2 linked regions of the Homo sapiens genome follow. The protein of the gene in region 1 interacts with the protein of each later gene in a pairwise test. Each region holds a gene or a part of one and is shown in the gene's direction. Other genes may lie near its edges. The genes, in order: ZNF474 and GPATCH11.

Region 1 (3,500 bases):
TAGAGGGAATAAGACGTAATGTTCAGGAGCATAACAGGGCAACTATAGTTAAAAATAAGCTACTGTAAGTATTTCAAAATAATGAAAAGACTAGAATTGTGATGTTCCCAACACAAAATAATGATAAATGCTTGAGGAGGTAGATATCCCAATTACCCTCATTTGATTATTACATGTTGTATGCTTATATCAAAATATCATACCTATGCCATAAATATGTACAACTATTATGTATTCATAATAATTAAAAATTTAAAAAAGAAGATATCTGATTTCCAAGGGAAATTAAATTTTGAAAGTCATTAGCACTCAGAACATATGTGGTCAAGAAAAACAATGTATGAATAAACTTAGCTCAGGGAAGCCAAACTCTGTGATTCTCCTTCAGCTTTCTACCTAGTTAGGCAGTGCCCCCAGCACAAGTGACTAGCTGCTCGTATGGCTACCTTTGGTGTGCCTGTCTAGGTCCATTCTCTAGGGAGCAGCAGCACATCTATTCTGGTTGCTCACTACTTGATAATCTTTACCATGAGGTATAGTGCTTGGTCTAGTTCATGGTCCTTGGAGAGATTCTCATTTATCTTGGATTCAGTATAGTTATGCTTTTAAAGCTATAATATTATTATAATTCTAATTCCTTGAGATAGTATTATAAAAATGAACAAGAATTAAATGATCACATATGTGTAAGACTTGAGAAAATATTACAAAGCTGTCTGATAACACTTCTTTTCCAAAAGCCCCTTTATGTTTTTTATTCCTCATATAAATAATGAACTTCAGTTTTGTTTAAAAATTTAATATAACATCAAGCTAATCTCACTCAGCTAGGTCAACATTAAATTTATTTTGTTATGACCTACAATGTGCCTGGCACTGGGCGAGGTGCTGGTGATATAACTATGTAGAGAGCAAGTAAGTCTCTATTGTCTCGAAGTTCACATGCAATTTAAAGAGATAAATATTACACATGCAAACAAACAGACAAAAACATAGGTGCTGAGTGCTGTAAAGATGATAAACAGTGGCATCACTGAACATAACTATGATGGATGGTGATGGTGATATCAGTTCCATGAATGAACATGAATGGGCATGTGTATGTGCATGTGTATGGGTGCAGGTGGGTGTGTAAGTGTGTGTGTTTGGGACAGAGGGAAAGAAATTACTTGAAAAAGAGTAGTCAAGAGTTCAAGGCCAGCCTGGCCAACATGGGCAACAACAGTAGCCCATCTCTACTAAAAATACAAAAATTAGCCAGGCGTGGTGGCAGGTGCCTGCAATCTCAGCTACTTGGGAGGCTGAGGCAGGAGAATCGCTTGAACCTGGAGCCAGAGGTTGCAGTGAGCCGAGATTATGCCACTGCACTTCAGCCTGGGTGACAGAGTGAGACTCTGTCTCAAAAAAAAAAAAAAAAAAAAAAAAAAAAAAAGAGTAGTTAAGAAAGGCCTGAGTTGACAATATTTAAATAGAGACCTGAAGGATAAAATAAGAAAGCTAAGCAAAGAACTGGAGGAAGATTCTAGGCAATGGCAAGAGCATGTGCAAAGCCTCTTCCCAGTCCCTCCCCCAGTCTACCCCAAAGTAAGAGAGAGTTTGACTTGCCTGAGGAACTGAGAGATGAACATGGATGGAGCATGGTGCAGAAAAGGGAGAGCAAAAGGAGATAGGCAGAGACTGAGGGAGGTACCAGGTTACAGAGGGCATTCAAGGTCAAGAGGTTGGATTTTATTTTGAGAGTAGTGGGACAACCATGGAGCAGTCAGTCAGCAGAGGTTTAAGTTGTGATTGTAGCTTAAGGAGTTAAATGTGACTGCTCTGAAAAGGATAGATGAGGGTTGAGAGCGGAAGTGCCTCTTCACCTATGTGGTTGAAACAGCCCACAGATGCGAGGCGCACCCGTTCACCTGCCTGGCATTAGATTTATGAGTGCAGGCAAAACAGCCAAAAGGAATAACCAACCACTTCAATGCTAGATATGGAAATGCTTCTACATAAATTGATGTAATATCACAAGAGGTTATCCAATATCAAATGGGTAGAATGAAGACAGGAGTGAAAAATCATGGGAAAGGAGATATATTAAAATGCAAAGGCAGAAAATACTAAGATGAGAAGGGGAGCAGAAGGAAAATATAAGAAGATGATAGAATAGGATAAGATGTTTTTTTCAGCCAAATTATTAATGGGCAATCACATAGGAAACAAAAACATGCTAAATATTGTTTAGAGTGTCTGTTAGTGCCTTTTCCCTTTTCCCTCACTGTCTAATTCCTTACCTTGCATTTCACATGCAAACCCACAATAAGAGGGGGAATCTACTTGAAGAGCTGAGGCAAAGGCAAACATCCTCATGATCTTCTCAGCCTGGCCTCACCACCAATGAGACTTCTCCCAAGTTCAAAGATATGTTCAAAAGGTTATTTTAGTGAAATTATTGTGAAATGAACAAAGAACAAAACGAAGAGTAGTGAGGACTGGAAATAGAAGAAAAAGGCAATTGGGCAAAGACTCAAATCTCGAGTTTCAGTTAGACTCTCAGCCAACAATTGTCCTTATTAGTACCATATGACCTAGTTACAATCCAGCATATCATCACTAAATAAGTGTCAGATGGACTAGCATTGTGGCATGGATTAATTACTAAATGAAGATTATAACATTGATTATCAATACATCCCCTTGACCCGGAAGAAATATGGAGAGGAATGCATAAGGTCTGTGATGTATGTGTGTATGTGTGTGTGTGTATGTGTATGTGTATTCATGTGTCTGAACAATTGGAAGCAGAGTCTTCAGTGAGGTGATAATAAGTATAACTGATAAAATTCTATTTTCTTGACAATCAAGTATACATATCCTTTGAAAGAATGGAAAAATATATAATTATTTTGTGAAAGACTTTTTCCATTTTGGTTCATTTTAAAATCATAAATGTGTAATAAAAGTTAATATTTACATTCCTTGAATCAGTTCATGGCATTTCCACTCAAAAGTACTAAATGATTGTAAAACATTAAAATCAGATAAATCTTGGATTGCTTTATCTGTTCAGTTCCAAGTGAACCATCTTATATATGAAACATATGACATTTCAATCAACAAAAATTAAAACCACACTTTCCCCTTCAGTTAACCTGTTTCCAATGTAAAATACCATGTCAAACGGAGTTTAATTATTTGAACTATTGGGGCATTTATGTGTGTTAAGCAGTTTCTAAATAAAGTTTTCAACAGAGATTCCCAGAAGTAGCACAGGAATGCTGTTTTAGCTAAAATTATTTAAATTAACATTACCCATTCCTTGCCTATATGAAACAGGCTTCATTATCATTCCCTAAAAATGTAATGATCTTTCATGTAACCAAATTTATTTTATTGTCAATTTTATAACTGGAATTTTGCAGTCAACTAAAAAGGATCAAGATTTGTGACCTAAAAAATTGTCATTACTTCATGATATTTACAGGACAAACCCTAAATGTATGAATTTTCAAATA
Region 2 (4,043 bases), on another chromosome or scaffold:
TGTCCATTGAAATGTCTTAAAACTGTTTTGCTCTGGGAGGCCGATGCAGAAGGATTGCTTAAAGCCAAGAGTTGGCCGGGCGTGGTGGCTCACACCTGTAATCCCAGCACTTTGGGTGGCCGAGGCAGGCAGATCACCTGAGGTTGGGAGTTCAAGACCAGCCTGACCAACATGGAGAAACCCCATCTCTACTAAAAATACAGAATTAGCCGGGCATGGTGGTGCATGCCTGTAATCCCAGCTACTTGGGAGGCTGAGGCAGGAGAATCGCTTGAACCCAGGAGGCAGAGATTGCAGTGAGCTAAGATTGCGCCATTGCACTCCAGCCTGGGCAACAAGAGTGAAATTCCATCTCAAGGAAAAAAAAAAAAAAGCAGCCAGGAATTTGAGACCAGCCTGGGCAACATAGCAAGACCTCATCTCTGCAAAAAATTTAAAAAATTAACCGGGTGTAGTGGCACGCACCTGTAGTCCTTGCTATTCAGGAGGCTGAGGCGGGACGATTCCTGGAGCCCACAAGTTCGAGGTTACAGTGAGCCATGATTGTGCCACTACATACCAGCCTGTCCCTATAAAAATAAAATAAAATAAAAGTGTTCTGAGACAGATTTATCTACCAAATGTTTTGCTTAATACTTGGATGAATTCAAGAGAAAAAGATATATTTTATTCATATTTAAATAAAACTATAACAGCTAATACTGTTTTTCTGATTTGAAAAATTGTTTATAATATTACTATAAGATGAGATTAACAATCTTTGTAAAAATCAGATTATGTTTTGGGCTTAAAAAAAACCCTAGTGTTTTCTACTATTAGTGTACTCAAATGATTTGTGAGTGATAGTACTCAAATGAGAATTGCATTTAATTTGTACATAGTTAAATCGTCTTGTTTTGAAGCACAAAGTCAGGATGTTTCTCATCAGAATTTTCTGTTTGAATAGGGAAAAGTGGCATTGGTCATGAGGCATCATTAAAACGGAAAGCAGAGGAAAAATTGGAAAGCTACAGAAAAAAGATTCACATGAAAAACCAAGCTGAAGAAAAAGCTGCAGAACAGTTTCGGTAAAACTATTTTTGAGCTGGTTTTGGTTCTATTTCCTCTTTATTGTGGTATGTTCTCTGGTACTTGGGCATATAAAATGGTTAAAGATAACGTAGACCTTTAGTTTACAATTTTTTCTTTCAATTAGAATGCGACTTAAAAATAAGCAAGATGAAATGAAGCTAGAAGGAGATCTCAGAAGAAGCCAGCGAGCCTGTCAACAACTGGATGTCCAGAAAGTAAGCCTTTTACCAGCTTTCAGTTTAGTAAAGTGTTTTGGCACCCCCTGTGATTTCCCGTTTATTTATTATATATATATATATTTTATATATGTATTATATATATTTATATATGTATTATATGTTTATATATGTATTACATATATTTATATGTATCATATATATTTATATATTTTTTACATATGTCTTATATATTATATATATTTTATGTATTTATATATATAATATATATATTATATATATATATAAAACTAAGAACTCCAAGCCCGGTTTATCTACTCATTAAAGCTTTCATGTAATGTGCACTTCTGATCTGTGACAATTGATATAAAAATGGCTTATTATTTACTATAGTAACCTGAGTTGTCTGGGTTACTATAAAACCCAGGGTTTTATAGTAACTATAGTTTTATAGTTTTATACTAACTATAGTAAAACAAAAAGGGTTAAATAAAATTTTACATTTAATTGTTCTCTGCTTATTTGAATATCAGTTATGACTATTATGTGCAGAAATTCTGTTCTTTATAATATTTGATTAACAAGAATAGCCTATTTTCAGTTCCTATTCAGTATCTAATATATGTCTAACTATTAAAATCAGAGTGGGCCAGGCATGATGGCTCAATCCTGTAATCCTAGCACTTTGGGAGGCAAAGGCAGGATGATTATTTCAGCCCAGGAGTTCGAGACCAGCCTGGATAACATTTCAAGACTCCATCTCTACAAAACATCTTAAAATTAGCTGCATGTGGTGGCACACACCTGTAGTCCTATCTACTCAGGAGGCTGAAGTGGGAGAATCACTTGAGCCCAGAAGGTTGAGGTTGCATTGAGCTATGTTCATGCCACTGCACTCCAGCCTGGGTGACAGAGTGAGACCCTGTCTCAAAAATAAAATCAAGGTGGAATGCTATCTAGTTCAAATTTGAATAGTTTTTAAAAAATTCTGTCTCTGGCTGGGCATGGTGGCTCATGTCTGTAATCTCAGCACTTTGAGAGGACGAGGCTGCAGGATTGCTTGAGTCCAGGAGTTTGTGACCAGCCTGGACAACATAGCAAGTCCCCAGCTCTACAAAAAAAATAAATAAGTAAATAAATTCTGTCTTTGCTTTTATCTTAGTGGTTCAAGTACTCTGAAAATAAAATGACTTCATTTGAAGTCTCAAAAAGCTTTGTAAAATTTCCCTTATATATAGATTACTGGAAGCAATCTCTCACTTTCCTGTTCTTACATATTACTTTACTTTGAATGTATTTCATGGCACTTATGATTTTGTAGCATATATGTATTATTTTGTACCCATAGCCTATCTTTCCTGCTAGACTGTCAGAAGGAACTTAAAGACAACTGCACAATTCTAAAGAATTGGACTTTGCATCCCCATAGTTCATGGTACAATGTTTTCACTTTTTTTTTGAGATGGAGTCTCACTCTGTCACCAGGCTAGAGTACAGTGGCGTGATTTTGGCTCACTGCAACCTCCACCTCCTGGGTTCAAGCAATTCTCCTGCCTCGGCCTCCTGAGTAGCTGGGACGACAGGCATGCACTACCACGCCCAGCTAATTTTTGTATTTTTAGTAGAGATGGGGTTTCACCATGTTGGTCAGGATGATCTTGATCTCTTGACCTCGTGATCCACCCACCTCTCCCTCCCAAAGTGCTGGGATTGCAGGCGTGAGCCACCGTGCCCGGCCAGTGTTTTTACTCTTAAAGCCACACTCAGTGAATACGTATTGAAAGAATGAATTCATGTTGACATGAACATATTTGTCATGCTCTTATGTTTAGTATGTTTAATTGAGACTACTTCTGCATTTTCAGAATATTCAGGTTCCCAGGGAAGCATGGTACTGGTTGAGGCTTGAAGAGGAGACTGAAGAAGATGAAGAAGAAAAAGAACAGGATGAAGATGAATATAAGAGTGAAGATTTAAGCGTATGCTTTGCACCATTTCCTTCATAGGGTGTCTCAGCCTTGGCAACATTAGCACTTTGAGTTGTGGTAATCCGTTGTTGTGGAGAGCTGTCCTGTGCATTGCAAGATGTTTAGCAGCATCTCTGGCCCCTGCCCACCAGATACCAGTTGCACTTTTGCTTATGACAACCAAAACCCTCTCCAGACATTGCTAAATGTCCCCGAGGGGAAAAATAACCCCTGGTTGAGAGGTACTGCATTGCAGGATTACTTTACTAACCCCAAATCAAAACTTACATATAATTTTTCCCTTTAGCTTCCATTTGTCCTCTCATCTCAGCTTCAGTTTGGATGATGAATTAGCAACAAATGTAAATTATTTTAATTTATACCTTATTTCCTGCAAAACTTCTACAAGTCATTCTAATGTGTACTTTTTTCTCCTACTTATAAACAACAAAAAAACACAATCAAAAGAAAATGGAGGCCGGGCATGGTGGCTCACACCTGTAATCCAAACACTTTGGGAGACCAAAACTGGTGGATCACTTGAGGTCAGGAGTTTAAGACCAGCCTGGCCAACATGGTAGTGTATTTTAGTCTCTACTAAAAATACAAAAATTAGCCAGGTGTGGGGCACCCAATAATCCTAGCTACTCAGGAGGCTGAGGTAGGAGGATCACGTGAGCCCGGGAGGCAGAGGTTGCGGTGAGCCAAGATCACGCCACTGCACTCCAGCCTAGGTGATAGACCGAGACCCTGTCTCACAAAAAAAAAAAAAAAAGGAAATGGAGATTATTCAAGAAAGGAAAACACACTCGTATGCTTACTTGAGTAT

Evidence for each region.
Region 2: the proteins of ZNF474 (region 1) and GPATCH11 interact in binary tests that used the Homo sapiens proteins (3 or more experiments, as listed by UniProt).

Annotation. Positions count from the first base shown.
Region 1 is NC_000005.10:122,136,046-122,139,545, forward strand, and holds part of ZNF474 (zinc finger protein 474), read left to right. Parts: intron 1-3,500.
Region 2 is NC_000002.12:37,090,970-37,095,012, forward strand, and holds part of GPATCH11 (G patch domain-containing protein 11), read left to right. Parts: intron 1-946; coding exon 947-1,067; intron 1,068-1,171; coding exon of another isoform or gene 1,172-1,195; coding exon 1,196-1,286; intron 1,287-3,112; coding exon 3,113-3,226; intron 3,227-3,682; exon of another isoform or gene 3,683-3,791; intron 3,792-4,043.